Homo sapiens: one gene and its partners. The protein of the gene in region 2 purifies or fractionates together with the protein of the main gene of each other region. This does not show direct contact. Each region holds a gene or a part of one and is shown on either strand. Other genes may lie near its edges.

Region 1 (3,595 bases), on a different chromosome or scaffold from region 2:
CAAAAATACTGTATCCAGCAGAGTTATCTTTCAAATGCGAAGGATATGTAAAATCTTTCCCAGAGAAACAAAAGCTGAGAGAATTCATCACCAACAGTCTCATAAGAAATCTAAAGAGAGCTCTTTAGTCTGAAAGACAAAAATGCTAATGTGCAAGAACAAAACATCTGAAGGTATAAAACCCACTGGTAAAATTAAGTATACAAACAAACCTAAAATTATCTAAAACTGTAATTGTCATTTACAATCCACTCATAACACCACTACAAAGCTCAAAAGACAAATGTATCAAAACAATAACATCTACAGCAACCTATTAAGAGATAGGCAATATAAAAACATGTCAATGAGACAACATAAAGTCAAAATGTGGGGTGAATGCAATTAAACCGTAGACCTAAGAAACCCCTTTATAAAGTTTTTTTAAAACTTCTTTGTAATAAAAATCGTCATCTTTTAAAAACAACTTCTTATGTGTATATTTTTATAAGCTTCATAGTAACCACAATGCAAAAACCTTTAATAGATTCACTAAAAATAAAAAGCAACAAATTACAACATATTACCAGAGAAAATCATTTAACCACAAAGGAAGACAGTACAAAAGGAAGAAAGGAAGAGAGGAGTTAGAAAATATACAAGCTACAAAATAGCAGTAGTAAGTCCTGATCAATAATAACACTGAGCCTAGGCAACATAGTGAGATCCTAGCTTACTAGCTAGGTGTGGTGGCATGTGCCTATAGTCCTAGCTACTCAGAAGGCTGTGGTAGGAAGATCGCTGGAGCCCAAGAAGTTGAGGCTGCAGTGAGTCATGATCACACCACTGCCTGGACAAGAGTAAGACCTTGCCTCAAAGAAAAATAGTAACATTGAATGTAAATGGACTCAGTTTTCCAATTAAAAGGTATAGGATGGCTGAATGCAAAGAAACAAGACCCAACTACCATGTTGCCTATGAGAAAGCCACTTCACCTATAAAGACACACATCGATTGAAAGTGAAGGTGTAGAAATAGATACGTGATGCAACTGGGAACCAAAAAAGAGCAGAAGTAGTTATATCAGGTAAAACAGGTACAAGTCAAAGACTGTAAAAAGAGACACAGGAGGTCACTTATAATAATAAGGAAGTCATTTCAGCAAGAGGCTATAATAGTTTAAAATGTCTATGCACACAACACAAGAGCTCCCAAGTATATAAAGCAAACATTAATAGATCTAAAGGGAGAGACAGATTGCAATATAATAATACTGAGGAACTTCAACACCTCACTCTCAATAATGGACAGATCCTCCAGACAGAAAATTGACAAGGAAACACTGGAGTTAAAGTACACCATAGATCACATAGGCCAAACTGATATTCACAGAATATTTCACCCAACTGTTATAAAATACACATTGTTTTCATTAACACATGGCACGTTCTCCAGAATAGGCTATATCTAGGCCACAAAACAAGTCTCAATAAATTCAAAACAGTAGAAATCATATCAAGTATTTTTTATGACCACCATGGAATGACACTAGAAACTGATAACCTGAGGGTCTCAGAAAATGCACAAACACATGGAAATTAAATAACAAGCTCGTGAATGACCAATGAAGTAATTAAGAAAAAAAGTATAAAATTTCTTGAAACAAATGTAAATGGAGATACAACATTCCCAAATCTATACTATACAGCAGAAGCAGTACTGAGATGGAAGTTTGTAGCAATAAACACCTATATCAAAAAAGTAGAAAGACTTCAAATAAACAACCTAATGGTGTACCTCAAAGAACTAGAAAAGCAGGAACAAACGGAGCCTAAACCTAGTAGAAGGAAAGAGATAATAAAGATCAGAGCCAAAAAACAAAAAACAAACAAACAAAAAAGGAGATTTAAAAAACCAGATCAATGAAAGAAAAAACTGGTGTTTTTAGAAGACAAAGAAAATCAGCAAACCATTAGCCAGACTAAGAAATAACAAAGAGAAGGCCAAATAAATAAAATGAGACATGGAAAAGGATACATAATAACCGAGACCACACAAATACAAAGACTCATTAGAGAGTATTATGAAAAACTCTTTGCCAACAAATTGGAAAACCTAGAAGAAATGGTTAAATTCCTGGACACATACAACCTAGCAAGATTGAACCATGAAGAAATAGAAAACTTCAACAAATCAATAGGGAGTAACAAGATCAAAATTATAATAAAAAGTCTTCCATCAAAGAAAAGCCCAGTACCTGATGGCTTTACCCCTGAATCTACAAACATTTGAAGAGACAGTAATACCAGTTCTGCTCTAATTCTTCAAAAAAAAAAAAAAAAAAGAAAAAGAAAAAAAGAAAAATTGAAGAGGAGGGAATACTTCCAAACTCATTCTACAAAGTAGTATTTCCATGACACCAAAACCAGAGAAGGGCACAACAAAAAAACAAAACTACAGGCCAGCATCACTGATGAGCCAGATACAAAAATCTTCAACAAAATACTAGCAAACCAAATTCAACAACGATGTTTAGCAGCATCCCTGGCCTCTGACCACCGGATGCCAGAAGTACCACCAGTTTTGACAATCAAAAATATCTCCAGGCATTCCTAAATACCCTGCGTTGGAGGAAGGTGGCTAAATCACACCTCCCTCTCCGCCGCCCCCCACCATTTTAGCACCACTGTATTAGATCACCTATAAGTTATAATATATGTTATGTAACATTACGCCAGAGATTATATACCCTGAGGCCGCTTTGGAAATTTCAGGAGAAGGCAGTTTGGTCACTTAGTTGGATGTTATAGAGGTGATAGCCTAATATTCTGTAAATCTTATAAATACATTTTTCTTCAATGCCTGCAAGAAAGAAGTAAAAAATGGAGACAGGCTGGAAAAAAATCAAGCTCTTGCATGTGAGAGCTACAGGCAACTTTAGGGCAGCCACAGGAATAAGAAAGAATATATTAAAAAAAGGGAGGAATTTAGGCCTTACCCTCACAGACCTGAGCCATAGCTGGGAAATTGTTACCCTTTTAAATCTAAGCCACCAGTGACAACCTGAGCTCAGGACTGAGTGGAGGGCACGGTCTACCACAGGGACCATGCTAGAAAAGTAAGTTTTTCAAAGAATATTTTTGGTGGCAGGGCAGGGCCATAGGCTCCTGTGAGTTAAATGACTGAGAACAGAAAAATATAACAGTATTCCACTAGATGGTGCTATATCTGATTAATTTATCAAGCATGTCCAAATTAGGTCTTACCTGACCCTGTCTTTTCCAGCATATTTTCCTCAGTCCTTTTTGCAATAATTTGAATTCAACCATACTTAAAATGAAAGATATTTGCAAATTTAAAAAATTCCATTCTAGCTAATCTCCATTACTGATTCAAAATACATGCATTTCCAGTCTAAACAACTTGGCACTATTAAGTCAGGCTCAGGTTCAAAAGGCACAAAGTTCATAGCAAAATGTCTGTTCCTTGTTTCAATTTTAATTAATGCCATAGCTAGCAGATTTAATAACACTTCTATTGTTAAGTACAAGCAAAACTGATATAAAAATCTCTTAACTTTCACTTCTTTAACATTCTGCTGGCTGATATAGTCAGA
Region 2 (4,176 bases):
ATGTGAAATAAGCATTTAGATCACTGTCTGGAAGCTTTAAAAAGCTGTTAAAGTGATCTGATATTTACCCATGTAACTTTTCTTTAAGATAAACAAATAGGAGAAAGAAATACATGGTAAACATGTAAATGTGTGTTTGAATTCTAATGAACATTTCAAACTATGAGGCTATTCAGCAAGAGGGATAGAGACAATGTTATTTCATTATGCGTACATCACACAGATGAGTTGCATTTGTGTTTGGGTATGCATAAACAGCAAAAGGATGTACAGAACAGTTTTTCAAACAATTCAGAAAGAAATTTAGCTGAAGGGTTTGCGTGTTACATTAAACAAATGAAAACCAAATTGCATTTCATATTTTATTTGTAAGATCCTCCAGGCCTGCACAGAGTAGAGGACTAAATGACAAACTTTGCTTTAACCTTCATCTTGGAATTCATTTCCTACCACTCTTCCTCTTATTAAATTGAACTGTTTGTCCTAAATCTGCCTGTGTACATGGTAAACTGTAACCTAACTTAATGTGTAAACAACCTGCAACCTAACTTCAGAGCATACATTATAACAAGTAGCAAAATCTCAGCGAATCATAGCAGCCTAACCTTCAGCCAACTGTAGGCCGAAACCTGCCAAAACATCCAAATAAAGCAAACACAGAACTCTAGTCAATCAAGTTATTTCCGCATGTCATTTCCATTTCTCCAGCTATAAATATTGCCTGCAACGCCTTGTAGGATGAAGCTCTCTGCACTGCTTTTGGTCCTGAATGTTATCTGGTTCATAAATATTTTTTATTTTCTCTGCTCAAATGAACTCTGTTAAATTTAACTTGTCTAAGATTTTTCTTTTAACACTGTCTAAGTTTATATTGGGAGAAGATCTCCGAAGCAGATGTAATTGCTTTTATAACAATGTCCATCCATTTATTCTTTAAATCTCCCACCAGCATTTCCACTGTGTCTCATTATTCAGGTTTCCTACTCCATGAAGACATTATCTCGGGATACCTTTTGGTCTTCACAGAAAAAGGTTGACACACAAAGACCAAGTGATTGAACATCATAATTGGTAATTAGTTCAGGGTTTTAAAAACTGTTCCTCTGGGATACATTTTAATGTAACTAATAGCAAATCACTTCAAGATGCTCTTCCTTGGGGTCCCTTGTCCTTGAGTCAGGAACCATGCTTTTCATTGATCTTAAGTATAAATAAACCAATACTAAAGCAAGCATGAAAGAGCTCATTTGATAGCAAACTGGCAAGAGCTACTGTACTTTTAGTTTTTTACAGTGATTTAATACAGGTCACCATTTGAACATGACAATACTCTGCAAAAAACTACAGTGAGTATTTGTGGGCAGACTGTCTAATTCTTAAGTTTACCATAAAATCATGGCCTGAGTAGGGATATTTTTGAGCCAGGTAACATATTTAATTCCTTTTTAGCCATAGCGCGCACACACACACACACACACACACACACACACACACACACAATCCATCCGCGGATTGTACTTTAATTCAAAACAGGGGATTTTATGCTATCAATGTATCAAAATACTGATGATGCAAGTATTTATATTGCCTGCCAGCCTTTCAAAATTTTTCCTTTCATATCAAATATGCAAAAGTTGGAGTTTAAAAGACAGTCAACTAAATTTAGGTTAACATACTTTACCAAGTTATGGGAATGCTTGACATGTATGAGAAATTGTTTTAGAATATGTCCTTTCTTTAATTATCATAAAGACTTAGCTAAATAGTTTAAGAATTAGCTTGCAAAACTTCTCATTGTATCAGGATGCTCCAAGCTGCTTAAAACGCCTCTCAAAAATAGAACCTTACAAGGGTTTCATTTACTCATTTAGTGTTCATATTCTACCTACATATATAAGAATCTGTGACAGACTCTATAAAATGGTGAGTGGCATGTTCAGAGTTGAATTTAAAAAAAAAAAGATTTCTTCCAAAACTTAGAAAACAATGTAAATGTGAAAAATAATGTCTTCCCAAACATAGAGAATAAAATGCTTTCAGACAGGAATTGCATTGGCTTCAGATGTCCTAGGGTGACCAACTTTCCCAGGTTGCCTGAGACTGACAGGTCTCCTAGGATGTGGGTCTTTCAGTGGCAAAACTTGGACAATCCCTGGCTAACCAAGTGGTTGATTATCCTTTGTAGGGTAGGGCCATGATTTGTATGCAGGTATTGACTCTCCTTAATCTCCGCCACCTTTTCTCTTTTTACAATTTATTATACTGCCTTCACACTGATCTTCCTTTCCTACCTCTCTGATCACTTCGAAACCTAGAAAATTAAGAAGTAGCTACTTTCACTTCTTTTCTAGTACTTCAACAGTGAAGCTAAGCTGAAGAGAATGTAACATTCTCCTTAAACGATGCTTGAACTAGAATCACCTCTGACGTAGCCCTACCTAATAGAAAGTGGCCTAGAATGAAACTGTCTGACAGAAGTCATTCAGGAATATGAGAGTACGAGGAAATTTGTATCACTCTGTCCCCATAAAACACAGTGGCTGCTGTGGGGAGTTCTTAGTACCTTGCCTTAGACAACATAGGCCCTTTAAACGTGTGCCGATATTGTTTATTATGACAATGAAGATGAAAATACTTGAAGACGGAGATGATGATAATGATGTAATGGATACATAAGAATAAACTGTGCTGTTGGAGTTGACATAGGTATAACATTGGCTTATAAAATGCAACATGAGTGAATTTTGTCATTAGACTCCCTGGATTCAGATTTCCATGTCGCCAGTGTCTGACTGTGTGACAATAAGCACATTTGATAACTACCAAATTTCACCAACTACTTCATATGTAAAATAGTGACATAAATATTATTAATTTTTTTTGAGACAGAGTTTCGCTCTTGTTGCCCAGGTCGGAGTGCAATGGCGCGATCTCGGCTCACTGAAACCTCCGCCTCCCAGGTTCAAGCAATTCTCCTGCCTCAGCCTCTTGAGTAGCTGGATTACAGGCATGTGCCACCATGCCCAGCTAATTTTGTATTTTTATTAGAGATGGGGTTTCTCCATGTTAGTCAGGCTGGTCTCAAACTCCCAACCTCAGGTGATGCGCCCGTCTTGGCCTCCCAAAGTGCTGGGATTACAGGCGTGAGCCACCGCACCCGGCCCTATTAATTCTTAAACTTATCCTCATGATTCAGCAAAATAGCATGGTGAATGGCACATAAATCAAGCATCATTGTGTATTATTAGTAAATGTTTGGTGTTCTAAAGTAAGTAAACAGAATGTGACCTCAATTCACTCCTTCCAGGAAAAGGTTGCCAGTGTTTATTTGGCAGTGCACTGCATCCTGCCAGACAAAATGGTCTAAGTTTTTTCTGTATGTAGTTTTATATCACTTTCATTTTATTCTGGCAATTCTATATCACTTTCATTTTATTCTGGCAATTCATTATTATAAATAAATCCTATTGTTAAACTTAAATTGATAATGTTCTACAAACCAGGTGGTGCCTGTAAACACAGTCTCCATTTAAGATGGACAAATACTGTCTCCCTCTGAATTCATCCTCTATGATGCCTTCAGGGCTGGCTTTCTAAAACTGGGGTATGTCACATACTACTTCCTCTCTCAGAAATCTAAAATTTCTCCCTTATCGACTACTTAACAACAAAATAATTCCTTACCTTAGAATATAATAATCTCAAGTAGTCCTATCTTTTCTTATTTTTATTTTTATTTCATTATGACAGGGTCTGGCTCTGTCACCCAGGCTGCAGTGCAGTGGCACAATCTCGGCTCACTGCAACCTCCGCCTCCCAGGCTCCAGCGATTCTCCTGCCTCAGCGTCCCAAGTAGCTGGGATTACAGGCCGGCTAATTTTTGTATTTTTTGTAGAAACGAGGTCTCACTATGTTACCAAGGCTGGTTTCAAACTCCTGGGCTCAAGCCATCTGCCCACCCCAGCCTGCCAAAGTGCTGGGACTACAGGTGTGAACCACACACCAGGCCAGTTTTATTGGAATTTATCTTCTCTTTCCTCTTCCCTTTCCAATCGCACTCCTCAAAACCTGCTTACTTTTGGAGACAATACCACATTCCTGTGGACTAAAAGCAGAGTTATTCATGAGAATAAAAATTGTCCCATATAAGGGAAGATATGCAGGAGAAAGAAGAAC
Region 3 (3,597 bases), on a different chromosome or scaffold from region 2:
TCATGCATGTAATCCCAGCACTTTGGGAGGCCGAGGCGGGCGGATCACCTGAGGTCAGGAGTTCAAGACCAGCCTGGCCAACATGGTGAAACCCATCTCTACTAAAAATACAAAAATTAGCCGGGTGTGGTGGTGGGCGCCTGTTAATCCCAGCGACTTGGGAAGCCGAGGCAGGAGAATCGCTTCAACCCGGGAGGCGGGGGTTGCAGCGAGCCGAGATTGTGCCATTGCACTCCAGCCTGGGCAACAAGAGCAAAACTGTCTCAAAAAAAAAAAAAAAAAAAAAAAAGAAAAAGAAAAGAAACGATACTGTAAAAATATAGCATTATCATCTTATGGGACTACCATTGTAAATGTGGTCCCTGGTTGACCAAAACGTCATTATGTGGTGCATGACTGTACTCGTATGGAAATATCCATAGCAGTGTTACTCACAGTAGCCAAAACGTGGCAGAAGCAACCCAGTGTCCTTCAGCAGATGAATGGGCAAGCAAAATGTAGTCTTTATATACAGTAGAATATTACTCAGCTTAAAAAGGAATGGAATGTTTTGAATGTGGCTTTTGTTGGGGGGGAGAAAAGGAATAGAATTCTGATACATGCTATAGCATGGATGAACCTTGAAACCATGCTAATGAAATAAGCCAGACACTAAAGGGTAAATGTTGTATGATTCCACTTATATGAGCTATCTAGAGCAGACAAATTCACAGAGTTAGACGGCAGAATAGAGGTTCCCAGGGGCTAAGCGAGGGGAAATGGGGTTATTGTGTAATGGGTAGAGTTTCTGTTTGTGATGGTGAAACGTGCTGGAAATAGTGGTGATGGTTGTGCAACGCTGCAAATGTACTTAATGCCACTGAATTATACACTCAGAAAATGACTAAAATTGTAAAAAAAAAAAAAAAAAAAAAAAAACCAAAACCACACACTATGATTTTTCTAAGTTAATTTTGTTTCATTTTTCCTAATTTTTTCTTTAAAAAGAATTATCAGGCCAGATGCAGTGGCTCAGATCTATAATCCCAGCAGTTTGGGAAGCCAAGGTGGGCAGATTGCTTGAGCCCAGGAGTTTGAGACCAGCCTGGGCAACATGGTGAAACCCCATCTCTACAAAAAGTATTTAAAAATTAGCTGGGTGTGGTGGCGCATGCCTGTAGTCCCAGCTACTCAGGAGGCTGAGGTGGGTAGATCACTTGAGCCTGGGAGGTCGAGGCTGCAGTGAGCCATGATTGAACCACTGCACTGCAACCTGGGTAACAGAGCGAGACCCTGTCTCGAAAACAACAACAAAAAAAGGAGTTATCTTTTTTGTTGTTCGTTTTTGAGACAGGGTTGCCCAGGCTGGAGTGCAGTGGTGCAATCATGGCTCACTGCATTCTCTAACTCCTGACTCAAGACATTCTCCTGCCACGGTCTCCCAAAGTGCTGGGATTACAGGCATGAGCCACCACGCCAAGCTCATTTTTCATAGTTTATAAACAGTCTGGAAAAAATAGGAAGAATTCTAGAGACTAAATATTCAAATTTCGGATACTAACATGTTGCATATATTTTCCTGTTCTATTAAAGGATATTGCTCTAAAAACAAGAGAAATCTTTACCAACCTAGCACCGTTTTCAGAAGTTTCGGCTGATGGAGAAAAGAGAGTCCTTAATTTGGAGGCGCTAAAGCAAAAACGATTTCCACCAGCAACAGAAAACTTCCTTTATCATCTAGCAGCAGCCGAACAAATGCTGAAAATCTGACTGTGTGACAGAACGTATCACTGATGACTGATAGAAAGCCCTCTTTCACTCTGATTACCCACTCACTACATGAAGTCCTGAAAATAACAGAGAAACTGTTATATCTTTTTAATGATTTATTTGCAAGTATTGAGATTTGACCTGAAAAACAATGAAACACATGAACACACTTCCGATTTTCTCCTCGCTGATTAGCTTCCTGCCTGCTGTCAGTGCTGGACGAAGTGCTATAACTACTTTATGTAACATTACAGAACAGCTAGAGGTCCTGGGGTAAGAGAAAAAAAGCACATCACAACAAATGTGAAAGCCTTCATTATTACACGTTCCAGTTTGTCTCGCTGTGTAGGCATAAGCTAATGGTTTATTTTCAGAAAGCTGCCTGAAACGTTGCTTTGTATTCTTCTAGGAAGAACTTTAATTCCTCCTGAGGAACTCTACTTTCTGAGCCAAACTGCTAATTTTCTGCGGAACTGTCTAGAAGATCATTCAAGAGACCCTGCAGTTGCACTTTCTCGTAAAAGTTAAAAAAAAAAAAAAAAAAAAAAGGTTTTTCCCGGCCTTTGAACATTTTGCCTATGAGAGTTTTGCATATATTTTATACTTGAGTAGACAACTTTAATAATCCATATTTATACTATCGCAGAAGTAAGCATTTGGCAAACGTTCAGCCATTAGCACTCATTTAACCCTGTTAGCAATATTCTTTTGAAAAAAGTGCCAGTCCTTATGTGATAAACTAAGAAGCCCATTGAATATAAAAGTGTGTAGGACTGAAACAGTGACCTTATATTATTGCTAAGGGAATATGAGATTAACTTCCTACAGGGGCCAAAACCAGAGAAAGGCTTCCAGCAACTTCGATGAAAGTAGTTTGGCCACATGTCAAGCCAATTGTTTGTACTATTTATGTACCTTTTTCATAACTGGAATTGCCAAATAAGCATGGAGATCTAAATGATGTACTTGTTAGTGTATTCATTCATATTGACTGTAAAGGATTATTTTTCACTCAGTACTGATGTCCTTGGAAATCTTACCTGGAAACATGTTTGCAAAAAACATTATTGGGTCTTTCATCTTTTTCTTGGTATTACATATTTGTTCAATAAAAATTAAACACCCTCCCTTTTTTTTGAGTGAGGGCAGGGAGTACCTGAAATAAGACAATGTTTACTAAGGCAAATAATTGAAAATTAAATCTGCACTTTATGGAAATGAGGAATATTAACATCTTTTTTCTCATTTTTTTGTATTACTATATTAGCTAATGATCAAAGTTGTTAAAATTATAAATTTATGATGCAGAAATAAAATTGATATATTTTGATATTCAACTACTTTTAGGTGGGTGACGAATTGTCCCCTCTTTCTCTAATACTGCTCATTCCAAAGAAAATGGGGAAAAAATACCTTTTTTCAACTGTGAGGGCGCTAGGGAATTATTAAAAGACCTGTCTGAAAGTTCAAGACGGCCAAGGGCGCGGTGGCTCATGCCTGTAATGCCAGCACTTTGGGAGGCCGAGGTGGGCGGATCACCTGAGATCAGGAGTTTGAGACTAGCCTGGCCAACGTGGTAAAACCCCATCTCTACTAAAAGTACAAAAATTAGCTGGGTGTGGTGGCACATGCCCGTAATCCCAGCTACTTGCTATTTGGGAGGCTGAGGCAGGAGAATTGCTCGAACCAGGGAGGCGGAGGTTGCAGTGAGCCGAGACTGCACCATTGCACTCCAGCCTGGACAAAAGAGCGAGACTTGGTTTCAAAAAAAAAAAAAAAAAAAAGTTCAAGCCGTCCCCCACACACCCTTTCCTCCCGCCCTAGCCCTCCTCCACTCGCCTTCCTGGA

What was found.
Region 1: the proteins of OR13G1 (region 2) and BEND6 purify together in Homo sapiens (affinity purification with mass spectrometry; one large-scale study listed by BioGRID and IntAct). This does not show direct contact.
Region 3: the proteins of OR13G1 (region 2) and DENND10 purify together in Homo sapiens (affinity purification with mass spectrometry; one large-scale study listed by BioGRID and IntAct). This does not show direct contact.

Annotation. Positions count from the first base shown.
Region 1 is NC_000006.12:57,020,893-57,024,487, reverse strand, and holds part of BEND6 (BEN domain-containing protein 6), read right to left. Parts: intron 1-3,595. UniProt on the Homo sapiens protein: Acts as a corepressor of recombining binding protein suppressor hairless (RBPJ) and inhibits Notch signaling in neural stem cells, thereby opposing their self-renewal and promoting neurogenesis.
Region 2 is NC_000001.11:247,676,810-247,680,985, reverse strand, and holds the start of OR13G1 (olfactory receptor 13G1), read left to right. Parts: upstream 1-1,246; 5' UTR 1,247-1,346; intron 1,347-4,176. UniProt on the Homo sapiens protein: Odorant receptor.
Region 3 is NC_000010.11:119,134,899-119,138,495, forward strand, and holds the end of DENND10 (DENN domain-containing protein 10), read left to right. Parts: intron 1-1,572; coding exon 1,573-1,749; 3' UTR 1,750-2,158; coding exon of another isoform or gene 2,159-2,170; 3' UTR 2,171-3,086; downstream 3,087-3,597. UniProt on the Homo sapiens protein: Guanine nucleotide exchange factor (GEF) regulating homeostasis of late endocytic pathway, including endosomal positioning, maturation and secretion, possibly through activating Rab proteins such as RAB27A and RAB27B.